Regions from separate parts of the Homo sapiens genome. Here region 1 is linked to region 2. Evidence: fine-mapped expression QTL. A gene starts in region 2. The other region holds a variant in brackets. All regions are shown on one strand. Distances are between the middles of the regions.

Region 1 (5,371 bases), 74 kb before region 2:
AAATAGTGAAACAGTGGATCTTGGAAGTGCACAGAGAGAAGCAGCTACTTCTGACATGGTATTAGGCACAGCTTGCTGGAAAAGGAGGGTTTTGTTTTGTTTTTGTTTTTGAGAGGGAGTCTCGCCCAGGGATCCACCCGCCTCAGCCTCCCAAAGTGCTGGGATTATAGGCGTGAGCCACCGCGCCCAGCCAAAACGGAGGTATTTGAAAGAGGAGAAAGCTTTGCAATATGGAGAGTGGTGAGGAGGAGCACTTCATGAAGAAAAGCGTGAACTGTGGTGAGAAGCCAGAAGGCATGGTGGGGATGCCATGGGGCTGACAGGACTTTGGGTTTTATTCTGCAAACAGTAAGGAATCCTTGTAGGTATACGAGAAGAGGGATGATATCGTCTAATTTTAGTTCCAGGAAAACAGCTTCAGTGTGCAGAATAACTTGGAGAGTCTAGCATCATGACTCTAGACATGCAAACAAGGATCTCAGGATACGGGGGCCTGAAAGAGGATGGTGGCAGTGAGGGTAGAAAGGAGGAATCAGCATTCATCCATCGTTTAACCAGTTATTCTCTGCGCTTGATGAGATGTATGGGGTGAGAGAGAGGGAAGAGGAGATGATGGCTTTATTTAACCTCTCTGACTTTTTGTCAGGGAACAAAGCAACAGGGGAAAGCTTTTGAAGCACAATATAGTTTTTTTGTTTGTTTGTTTGTTTTGAGATGGAGTTTCGCTGTGTCACCCAGGCTGGAGTGCAGTGGCGCGATCTCAGCTCACTGCAACCTCCACCTCCTGGTTCAAGTGATTCTCCTGCCTCAGCTTCTCAAGTAGCTGGGATTACAGGTGCCCGCCACCACCCCCAGCTATTTTTTTTGGTATTTTTAGTAGAGATGGGGGTTTCACCATGTTGGCCAGGCTGGTTTCAAACTCCTGACCTCAAGTGACCGCCCGCCTCAGCCTCCCAAAGTCTTAGGATTACAGGTATGAGCCACCGCACCCAGCCAGGAAGTACAATATAGTTTACCAAAGTTTATGTTTATTATTCTGCTTTAATTATAAGGGATAGGTATTAGCATATCTATTTCAGGGATAAGGAAACTGAGACCCAGAGAGACTAAGTGTCTTGTCCAAAGTGATTCTGTTAAGAAGAACAGAGTAGGGGTTCAAATACCGGGGCCTTTCCTTCCTGTGTTCTACGATCTGGGACATGCCTTTGAGATGCTAGTGGGTCATCCTCGTGGAAGTATTCAGCCACCAGCTGACAGTGGGAATCTGGAGAGAAGTTAGAACTGGACAGGCAGACAGGACTCATCCACAGAGAGGCCAAGTTAAAAAATAGACTTGTTCTTTGAGGGAACAGAGAGGGAAAGGAGAAAAATGATTAGGAAAAGAATATTAGGTATAGACAAGGGAGCAAGAGAAAATGATCAGAGCAGTAGAAAACTATGAGGGCTCAGAGTCTCAGAAACCAAGAAGGACCAGGTGGTTTTTCTTTTTTTCCTCTCCTTCCCTGCTTGGCAGGGTTCTGTAAAGGGACCTCAGCGGTGAGGGAGAAGGCTGGGAGCAGTCAACACTCTAGATCCCCGCCCTTCCTGTCACCAAGCCATCCCCATCCCCCCGCCCCAAATCTCCTGAGCATCCCAGGATAACTTTGCTTTTATTGTTTTTATACAGTGGACTTCTGGGTTATATTTTTTTAAAAAAGAGTTTTTGCAATAAAAAGGTTGAAAACCATCGAGCTCAAAGAACCACCCTCCAAATTAGACAAAGCCAGCAAGACCCCGGCTCCATAAGTTGCCTACCCAGTCCCTGCCACCACAACTGGCTTTCCTGGATTGGGCCTCGGGTTGCACACAAGCCCTTGCTGGAGCACTCATCCTGTCATTCCAAACCTCTCCTCTACTCCCCAGACCAGTAAAGAAGAGTTTAGCTGGGAGTGAGGGGGCATTGAGAAAGACTGTGCTCTCTCTAAAAGCACTAAGGTGGAAGGTCAGGAACCCTTCTTGGGCCTCTCCAATAAAGGGCTGGGCAGAAAATTCCAGTTGAAAATCCAGAAAGAGGCCAGGCACAGTGGCTCACACCTGTAATCCCAGCACTTTGGGAGGCCGAGGCAGGCAGATCACCTGAGGTCAGGAGTTCAAGACCAGCATGGCCAACGTGGTGAAACCCTGTCTCTACCAAAAATACAAAAATTAGCTGGGCATGGTGGCACGTGCCTGTAATCCCAGCTAATCAGGAGGCTGAGGCAGGAGAATCGCTTGAACCCAGGAGGCGGAGGTTGCAGTGAGCCAACATCATGCCACTGCACTCCAGCCTGGGCGACAGGGGGAAGACTCCATCTCAAAAAAAGAAAATCCAGGAAGAGAAACACCTCCCAGGGAAGCCCCCATACCTAATGACTAACTTCTGTCTCTCCTGGGAGCCTTCTCTTTCAGGTGCCTGGGCAGGGGAGAGTTCTGGGAAGGAACCAGAACATTTTCTGAGTTCTGGAGCTGCCCTGAGATTCTCCTGGCAGGATGCGACAGCACCTGAGTACATCCTTAGTACCGCAGCCTTGGGTACTATAGCCAGGTGTTTCCCAAAATAGGAGAGCTGGGCTGTGCTGGGGAGAATGAGGAAATCAGCAGAACTGGGGGGATTCTGACGTGGGGGAGCTGGGACTCCTAGGTCCTTTTCCTCAAAGCAAACTGGCCAAGCTCTGCCTCCTCCCATGCCAACTTATCCTCTGTCACCATATTTCCTGAGCTGCTGTCACTCTGGGGCCACCCTCTCTGCTGCGCACT[G/T]TAGGCTGGGTGTCCTCTTGCTTGGTCTTTCAAGGTCAGTGAATCTCATCACTTAGCCTTTTTTCTTTTTTTTTCTTGAGACAGGGTCTCACTCTGTTGCCCAGGCTGGAGTGCGGTGGCGCGATCTCGGCTCCCTGCAACCTCCACCTCCTGGGTTCAAGCAATTCTCCAGCGTCGGCCTGCCAAGTAGCTAGGACTACGGGCACGCACAACCACACCCGGCTAATTTATATATATATTTTGGTAGAGACGGGGTTTCACTATGTGGCCAGAATGGTCTCAAACTCCTTGACCTCAAGTGATCCGCCCACCTCAGCCTCCCAAAGTGCTGGGACTACAGGCGTGAGTCACTGTGCCTGGCCCTACCACTTACTCTTTTCCAAGGCCTGTGGAGGTTTTGACAGGTAGGACAAGGAGTGAGTTCTAGCATCTCCCAATGGCTTGAATAAACAAGCCCATGTGCTGAGCGTGACACAGGTGCCATGGTCAGCTTCATTTTCAACTGAGGACAGAGCAAGAGAAGATTCAAGCCACTGTAACCTGTGGGTGGGACAAGGTTAAATAACAGGAAGGACTTACTGTCTGACCATGAAAAACAGGTGGCGAATAGCTGCTGTGATACCTTGTGGAGCATGGGTTTTCCAGGTGGGTTCCGCAGAGGCTAAAGGTGCTGAAGAGATGCCTCAAGAGCCAGCACAGGCAGGGGAGGGAAGCAGAGGAAATCAAACCTCCCCTTCAAACAGAACACCTCTGTCTTTTTCTCTCTTGTACACTAGGATCCTGCATACAATTGGAAAAGGGGAAAAGGATTCCGCTGCTTTATTTTTTATTTTTATTTATTTATTTATTTTTGAGACGGAGTCTCACTCTGTCGCCCAGGCTGGAGTGCAGTGGTGCGATCTGGGCTCACTGCAAGCTCCGCCTCCTGGGTTCACGCCATTCTCCTGCTTCAGCCTCCCAAGTAGCTGGGACTACAGGCGCCTGCCATCACGCCCGGCTAATTTTTTGTATTTTTTAGTGGAGACGGGGTTTCACCGTGTTAGCCAGGATGGTCTCGATCTCCTGACTTTGTGATCCGTCCGCCTCGGCCTCCCAAAGTGCTGGGATTACAGGCGTGAGCCACTGCGCGCGGCTGATTCTGCTGCTTTAGAAAAAAAAAAGTTTGAAAATTACTGTCATAAACTCTTGGACCATCGACATCCATCATTCTATTGGAGTAGGAGGCACTGGCAAATATTAGTTGAGCCGGGTTACAGGCTGCGGAGAAATGGGGCATCCCATCCAAAGGGGGAAAGGTATACTAGATAAGGTTTGGGGCGACCCAGCCACATTGGGACTCCTTGAAAAACCAGCCAGAGGTGGGGTAAGTGGCGCCAGGGAGCCTGCTTGCTCCCAGGTACCAATGGCCAGCTACAGCCAGGAGAGGCAAGTGGAAGGCAGAGGAACTAGCTGGGAAAAGGAGTCCATTTGCACAGGGCTGGCTGATTTGTTCAAGGTGGGAGGAACCTGGACAGGACCCAGTCGCTGGACTCTGAGACAGGAGCTGTGTGCTCTGTTGGCCATAAGCCCCTCCCCGCTGCTGACTTTAGGCTCCTCTTGTCCTTCCTTGCCCCCTTTTCTCAGCCTTGGGTAAGCTCAGGTCTGGAAATCACTTAGGAAAAGCAGATGAAGCTGACTCACAAGGTTCTGGGACTAAGGAGGCCTGGAGTCACTATAACTGCTCTAAGAACCACAGGACCCTGGGTGGATATTCACCAACATGGTGAAACCCCGTCTGTACTAAAAATGCAAAAATTAGCTGGGCGTAGTGGCGGGTGCCTGTAATCCCAGCTACTCGGGAGGCTGAGGCAGGAGCCAAGATTGCACCACTGCACTACAGCCTGGGTGACAGAGTGAGAACCCACCTCAAAAAAAAAAAAAAAAGAATAGGAAGAGTCCATAGGGTCATAGGAATTAACTGCAGGGAATGAGGCAGTTGCTGTCAATTAAAAAAAAAATCATTACGGAGCATCTACTCAGGGCTAGGTAACAATTAGGTAATAAGCAATACAAATGCTCCCTACCCTTGGTGGAGCTCATAGTCTGTGGGACAGGCAGACATTAAATACATGATTAAAAGTGTGAGTGGTAGACAAAGAAGCACAGGTGCTACTGAGGATTTGCAAGAGGAAGAACCTAATCTTATCTGGGCGTCAGGACAAGACCTTTGAAGAAAGGATATTTAAAGTGTAATGTGAACATGAGAACAGGGAAAGAATGCTGCAGACAAATATATGCAAAGATGCACAAGTGAGAGATCATCGTGCTTTCGGGAAACTTCACAAGAAGCCTGGTGAGGAAAGGGAACTGGCAAGAGATGTTCACGGGGTTGACCTATGGTTGGTGCCTTCAGGGTCAAGGACCCCAGGATTTAATTCAGATAGTTTGTGTCAGTTATCTGATGCTGGGTAACAGACTACTCCAAAATTTAGTGGCCCAAACAAGAATCATTTTTTCAGGATTCCGTGTGTTGGCTTGTAATTTTTCTACAGATCTTACCTGGGCTCACCCATGTGGCTGCATTCAGCTGGTACGTCAGCTGGGGGCTGGACTAACC
Region 2 (5,371 bases):
ATACACCACAACATCACTATGTACCCCCATGAATACGTACAATTATCGTGTCCATTTTTTAAAATATAAAAATAAATCACTGAAAAGTAAAATACCCAGTCTGGCCAACGTGGCAAAACCCCGTTTCTACTCAAATACAAAAATTAGCCAGGCGTGGTGCTGGGCGGCTGTAATCCTAGCTACTTGGGAGGCTGAGGTAAGGGAATCCAGGAGACGTTTGAACCCAGGAGACGGAGGTTGCAGTGAGCTGGGTTCACGCCATTGCACTCCAGTCTGGGCGACAGAGCGAGACTCCATCTCAAAAAAAAAAAAAAAAAAAAAGGCTGGGCGTGGTGACTCACGCCTGTAATCCCAGCACTTTGGGAGGCCGAGGCAGGCGGATCACGAGGTCAGGAGATCGAGACCATCCTGGCTAACACAGTGAAACCCCGTTTCTACTAAAAATACAAAAAATTAGCCGGGCGTAGTGGCGGGCGCCTGTAGTCCCAGCTACTGGGGAGGCTGAGGCAGGAGAACGGCATAAACCCGGGAGGCAGAGCTTGCAGTGAGCCGAGATCGCGCCACTGCACTCCAGCCTGGGCCAACAGAGTGAGACTCCATCTCAAAAAAAGAAAAGTGAAATAGATTTGAAACCATTAAAAAAATTTTCAGAAAAAAATTGGATGGTTGCATCTGTACTGAACATGTACAAACTTTTTTACCTGTCATTATTCCTTAAACAACACAACTATTTACATAACATTTACATTGTATTAGTTGTTGTAAATAACCTATTGTTTAAAGTATATGGGAGGACATGCATAGGTTATATGCAAATACTACACCACTTTATTTATTTTTTATCTTTTTAATAGCTTTAAGTAGGGTGGGCATATGCCTATCCCAGATAAAATACTACACCATTTTATGTAAGGGACTTGAGCATTTATAGATTTTGGTATCCTCAGTAGGGGTCCTGGAACCAATCTCCAGCATATACTGTGGGATGACTATATAGCTAATTTAGTTCAACACTGTACATAACAATGTATCATATTAGCTACTATGAGATATAAGTTTGGGTAATTGTGTATCTGTATGTATACATATTTAGATATCCATGTACACATACTGATATAACATTTCTCATATATAACATATAAACATATGGTTAAATGAACATACAGTCCACGTAGGAAAGGGCTGGAAAATGTTTGCATTTTTTAATGAGTTTGACCCCATGTATTCTATTCTATTTATTCCCCAAACATTTAGCATGCCTGCTGAGTATCAGGTGCTGTGTTGGATACCAGAAATACAAAGATAGATCAGACAGTCCTGTACCTTTAAAAAGCTAGTGCAGTGCCATCAGAGCCAAAAAGAAAGACCAGCTACACAAGACCATCTCAAAAACCCTTTACCCAAATGAATCTTCCCAGTCAGGAGTCCACACATTACCTTAGACCATCTGGGAGACCTTCGTCTGATTTGGAAGCACATAAACTAGAAGATTCCGGAGGACTGGGGGCATTGGCCACAACACCAGCAACCTCAGACGCTGCCATTATGCTCTGTACATTCAGAAACAAATTACAGGCTACAAGTTTCCAAAGTTTAAAACAAATGTATCTCTCCCCCCTCAGAATGTCCACACAACAGAGCTGTCGCAGTAAAGAAACACAAAAACCTGGGCTCCGGGAGAAAATACTTAAGAGTACTAAAAGAGACATTGTATGCAAAGTCCTAGTGTCCTAGTGGGCAGCAATCCTCAGGAGTCACTGTATTTACATAAATATCTAGGAGTCTGTGCAAAGATCTTATTTTCACTTTTGGCAGAAATGTAGTCATTTCAAACAATACATCTTAGTCTGCCAGGATCTTCCAAGTGGTCCCAGGCCTACCTTGTCTGCTATCATTTTTAATAAAAGACGTACTTTTCGGCCTAGTATCAATCAGATCTCATGTTTTTAAATCACTTTATGGCTGTTACATTCAAAGCATTCTCCATTAATTTAAGGGAAGTTTTTGGAGGTGTCTGCCTGTAAGTCAACAAGTAATGCAATACTGGGCAATCCAGGGTGCATATTTTACTGTCAGCGTGCTCCCCACAGATGGGAAAGGCCTGATACCCACTAACTGAGCAAAGAACAGACTCTTCAGAGTGACTAGTGGTGCAAAAAAGAATCCTGGGTTCTCTAGCGTGAAAAAGTCAAGGTAAAAAACATGGTAACACAAGTAAGGGAACTGGGACGGACGCCTTTTTTAAAAATCAAAAGGTCATCTTTTATGCCGCAGAGCAAACTTATGACCTTATGAGGAGAAAAGAAAATCAAAATACTTGGGAGGTGGGGATGAACATCGGGTTAGTTTGCATTCTTGCTTTTATTTTAACAGCATCACACGTATTCCCCCCCGGAACACTGAAGAGCGCATAGGGCAGATAGGTAGATGGGGCTGTGTCAACACCTCAGTCACAGCCCACAGACCCTCTGTGCCTCAGTTTCCCTCATTATACAAAGCTCCTGGGAGAAAATGGGCCCAAACCGCCATTGCTGCTCCCTCAGGTGCAAACATCCCGTCTCCAACATAGCCCAGGGCTGGGGGGTCCTCTGCGCCCGGTGAACGAAACCCCAGGACAAGGGCCATGCATGCAACTCCGTGGCTAGAGAGCCCGTGGCGCGGGTAGGAACAGCTGGCTGGAGGGTCGAGTGTACCAAAAAGAACTCCGCAACCCGGGGCGACCACCAGCGAAGCAGGGGCGCCGGAGCCACGGGTCCTCGGGCGAGAACAGGGGACAGACGGGAAGGGGACAATGGGGGGAAGCGGCGCTGGGTGGCCTTGGCCACCCCCCACAGGGGACTGCTAGGCTGGCCGCTGGCTCGGACCAGACCCCCCTCCACCCCTTCCCCTCGGTCCCCCCACCCCGCTGCCAGCCACCCCCCCGTCCCACTTCTAGGCCGGGACCCCCGCCTCGGTTCTCACAGCACCCTCCACGCCCCCCACCCGACCCCCATGCCCGGCCCTCGCCCCGCAACCCCCACCCACGCTCGCCCCGCACACACCTCCCGCGCCGCGCCCCCGGGAGGAAAGTGGGGGAGGGACGGGACGCACCTGAGCGGGCGGAGCGGGGGGAGGGGGCGGCCGAGCCACGGGGGGAGGGGTCGAGCGCCGGCCCGCGCGCGGCACCTCCCACTTCCGGCGGCACGAGCGGAGGGGGCGAGGCTCCGGCCGCGAGAGGAGAGGCCGCGGTGGCGCCGCGCCGCCCCCGACGGCGCCCTCTGGCGGCGACAGCTGGCGCCGCCGGGGCACGGGGATGCTGCGGGAGACCCCTGAGATACAAGTGGACTCTCCCGGGGCGCGGGGAAGAAGGGAGAGCCGACTGCGAGAAGGAAGGCGACCTGGGTGGGCAGGATCCCCTCTGGGAAGATTACAGGGACAGTCGGGGCCATGGCGGTCAGAAGGAGAAGAGCAACGAGTGGCTTTTAAAGGTCGGAACCGAAATGCCCTTTACAGAGGACGCCATGAAGGAGAGCCTTCTGAAGAGGGACCATGTGGAAGATGCCCCGAGGACTCGGGGAGGCGGAGCCCGCGGGTTCAGCCCCCAGCGCCCGCACGGCCCCTGCCTGCGTAGGCCGCCCGCGGGAGCCGGACCCCGGGCGCCGGTTGCTGTGGCCCGCGGGGGTCGCCGGGCCGCAGGCGCCGCGCTGATTGGCTGCGCCGCGGGCGGAAGTGATGCTGCTGTCACTGCTCCTCCGGCTCCCGGGAAGCCGCGAGTTTCCGCAGGGAGGCGGCGGCAGCTGCGGCGGGGCCGGTGAGTTGGGAACTAGGTGTGGGGCTGGACCTGGGTGGTCAGGGGGCCCCAGAAGTGGGGGAAGCCGGCGTCTGAGGATGAGGGAGCTGCACAGAGGGTGCCTGAGGTCCTGGCGTGGGGGACCAAGGAGATGGGGCCCCAGGGCCCAGAATTCCTGGATAATGTGGGTGCTAATGAGGAGAGGGGCACATTGCACGGAGCGATCGAGGCCGACGGAGGGAGAATCGGGAAACTGACCCGGTACCCAAGCTGGCTTCTAGGAGCCGGGTGTGGAACAGCGAGGACAGTAGCTTGGGAGCAGGATCTTGGACTCCAGGCTGCCCATTCTCTTCTTCCTTGTCAATTAAGAGCTGTAAAGGGAGGCCTAGCCGTTGGGAGAGGTTGAGACCTGCTTTCAGAAGGCATTTAAGGTTCCTTTCCCAGAAGCCTGGGGGATAAAAATGCTGCTTTGCCACTAGTAGACAGAAGGAGCTCCTGCTTCTCTTTCTTCCTGACATCTGTGGTGGGATCTACTGAGTCTGAAGGAGTCTGCCTAGCGGGGCCACTGTCTGGCTAACAAGGGTTTTGTTTGTTAGTTTGTTTACTTAGTAGAGTATGCAGACTGGGGAAGACACCTAAATATCTTGGGAGAATTGAGGCTCCCGGGGGCAGGGAGGGATTGAGAGGGAATATGCCTGGAAACCTAAGAGAAAACGAGAGGAAGAAATGTAGTATGAAGATTTTTAGAGGTAAAGGAGAGGTGGCATAAGTTCTCCTTTCCAGGAAGCCTTTCAGTAAAATTCCCATTTTTCTGGAATGCTTTGAGGTAGAGCCGCTTGGGTGTGTATCTGAGTACTAAGCCCTGCCCCAGGGTGGACCCAGTGGAGAGCAAAGGCTTTTAAAGGAGCCCAGCCACCATAGGTACACACATGTCCTGCCACCCCATTTGTCTGTCCCCCAGTTCTAACTTGGCTCTTTTTTTTTTTTTTTGAGGGCTCCTGAGACCAATTCCCTGGTTCTGTCAAACCCAGGCAATTGGAGTCCCAGTCTGGAGTCTGAGTCCTCACCTTGAAGCCAGCCTCCTGAGCTCAGTACAGGAGTAGCTGCTTAGTGAGGTTCTCTCATCATTCGTTCTCTCCTGGTTGCCCGCTTGTCCTTGGTGCCTGTTCTGTTTTGTTTGCACTCTCTGGCTTTCCCCGTTTCGCCCCCGCCGCCTCCCTCCTTTCACTTTCCCTGGTATCCTTCTGGGATATACAAATCAAGAAGTTAGCTACCACCTGGACTTCTAGGACGTTATTACCTACTCTTTCAAGAGGCATTTTGGTAACTGTTTTTTGCTAGGCCTCTGGGGAACAAAATGAAAAGAGGGTGGCACGATAGCACAGGAAGTGGGTTTTTTGGGTGTTATACTGATTTGGCCTCACCGTACCAGTTCTGCTCCAGTCTATGACCGATTTTAGATCTTTGGAAATGACAATTAATGAAGTTTCTTTGGTCCCTGGTCCTGGAGTTTATCTAACCTCAGCTTGTTGCCCTGGGATTGGTGGGACATTATTTCTTCTGTTCTTGGATCCCACAGGTCTGTAGCCTTTGCTGAGTCAA

Which allele goes with the higher level. Alleles are on the strand shown, and positions count from the first base shown. SD is a standard deviation of normalised expression in the study named.
As copies of T replace G in region 1, the expression in non-classical monocytes of the gene that starts at base 3,146 in region 2 goes down (large effect, 1.0 SD a copy in Schmiedel 2018).

Evidence for each region. PIP is the estimated chance that this variant, and not a neighbour inherited with it, causes the effect. A credible set is the group of variants that fine-mapping cannot tell apart.
Region 1: its variant is the best candidate, but not a certain one, in a credible set for the expression of RNF214 in non-classical monocytes (Schmiedel 2018, PIP 0.53).

Annotation. Positions count from the first base shown.
Region 1 is chr11:117,304,292-117,309,662 of GRCh38, reverse strand. All of the region lies in intron 1 of BACE1 (beta-secretase 1), which reads left to right. Among named protein-coding and RNA genes, the nearest start is that of BACE1, 9.3 kb to the left of the region's middle. The variant G/T (reference allele first, on the strand shown) is at 2,776.
Region 2 is chr11:117,230,446-117,235,816 of GRCh38, reverse strand. It overlaps RNF214 (ring finger protein 214), which reads right to left and starts at 3,146. Exons shown (of 15, transcript NM_207343.4): 1 at 3,091-3,146; 2 at 1,438-1,550. The coding sequence starts at 1,544. PCSK7 (proprotein convertase subtilisin/kexin type 7) reads left to right here and starts at 3,744. Exons shown (of 17, transcript NM_004716.4): 1 at 3,744-3,790; 2 at 5,349-5,371. RefSeq lists enhancers at 1-22, 3,897-3,946, 4,816-5,055 and silencers at 3,007-3,346, 3,557-3,706.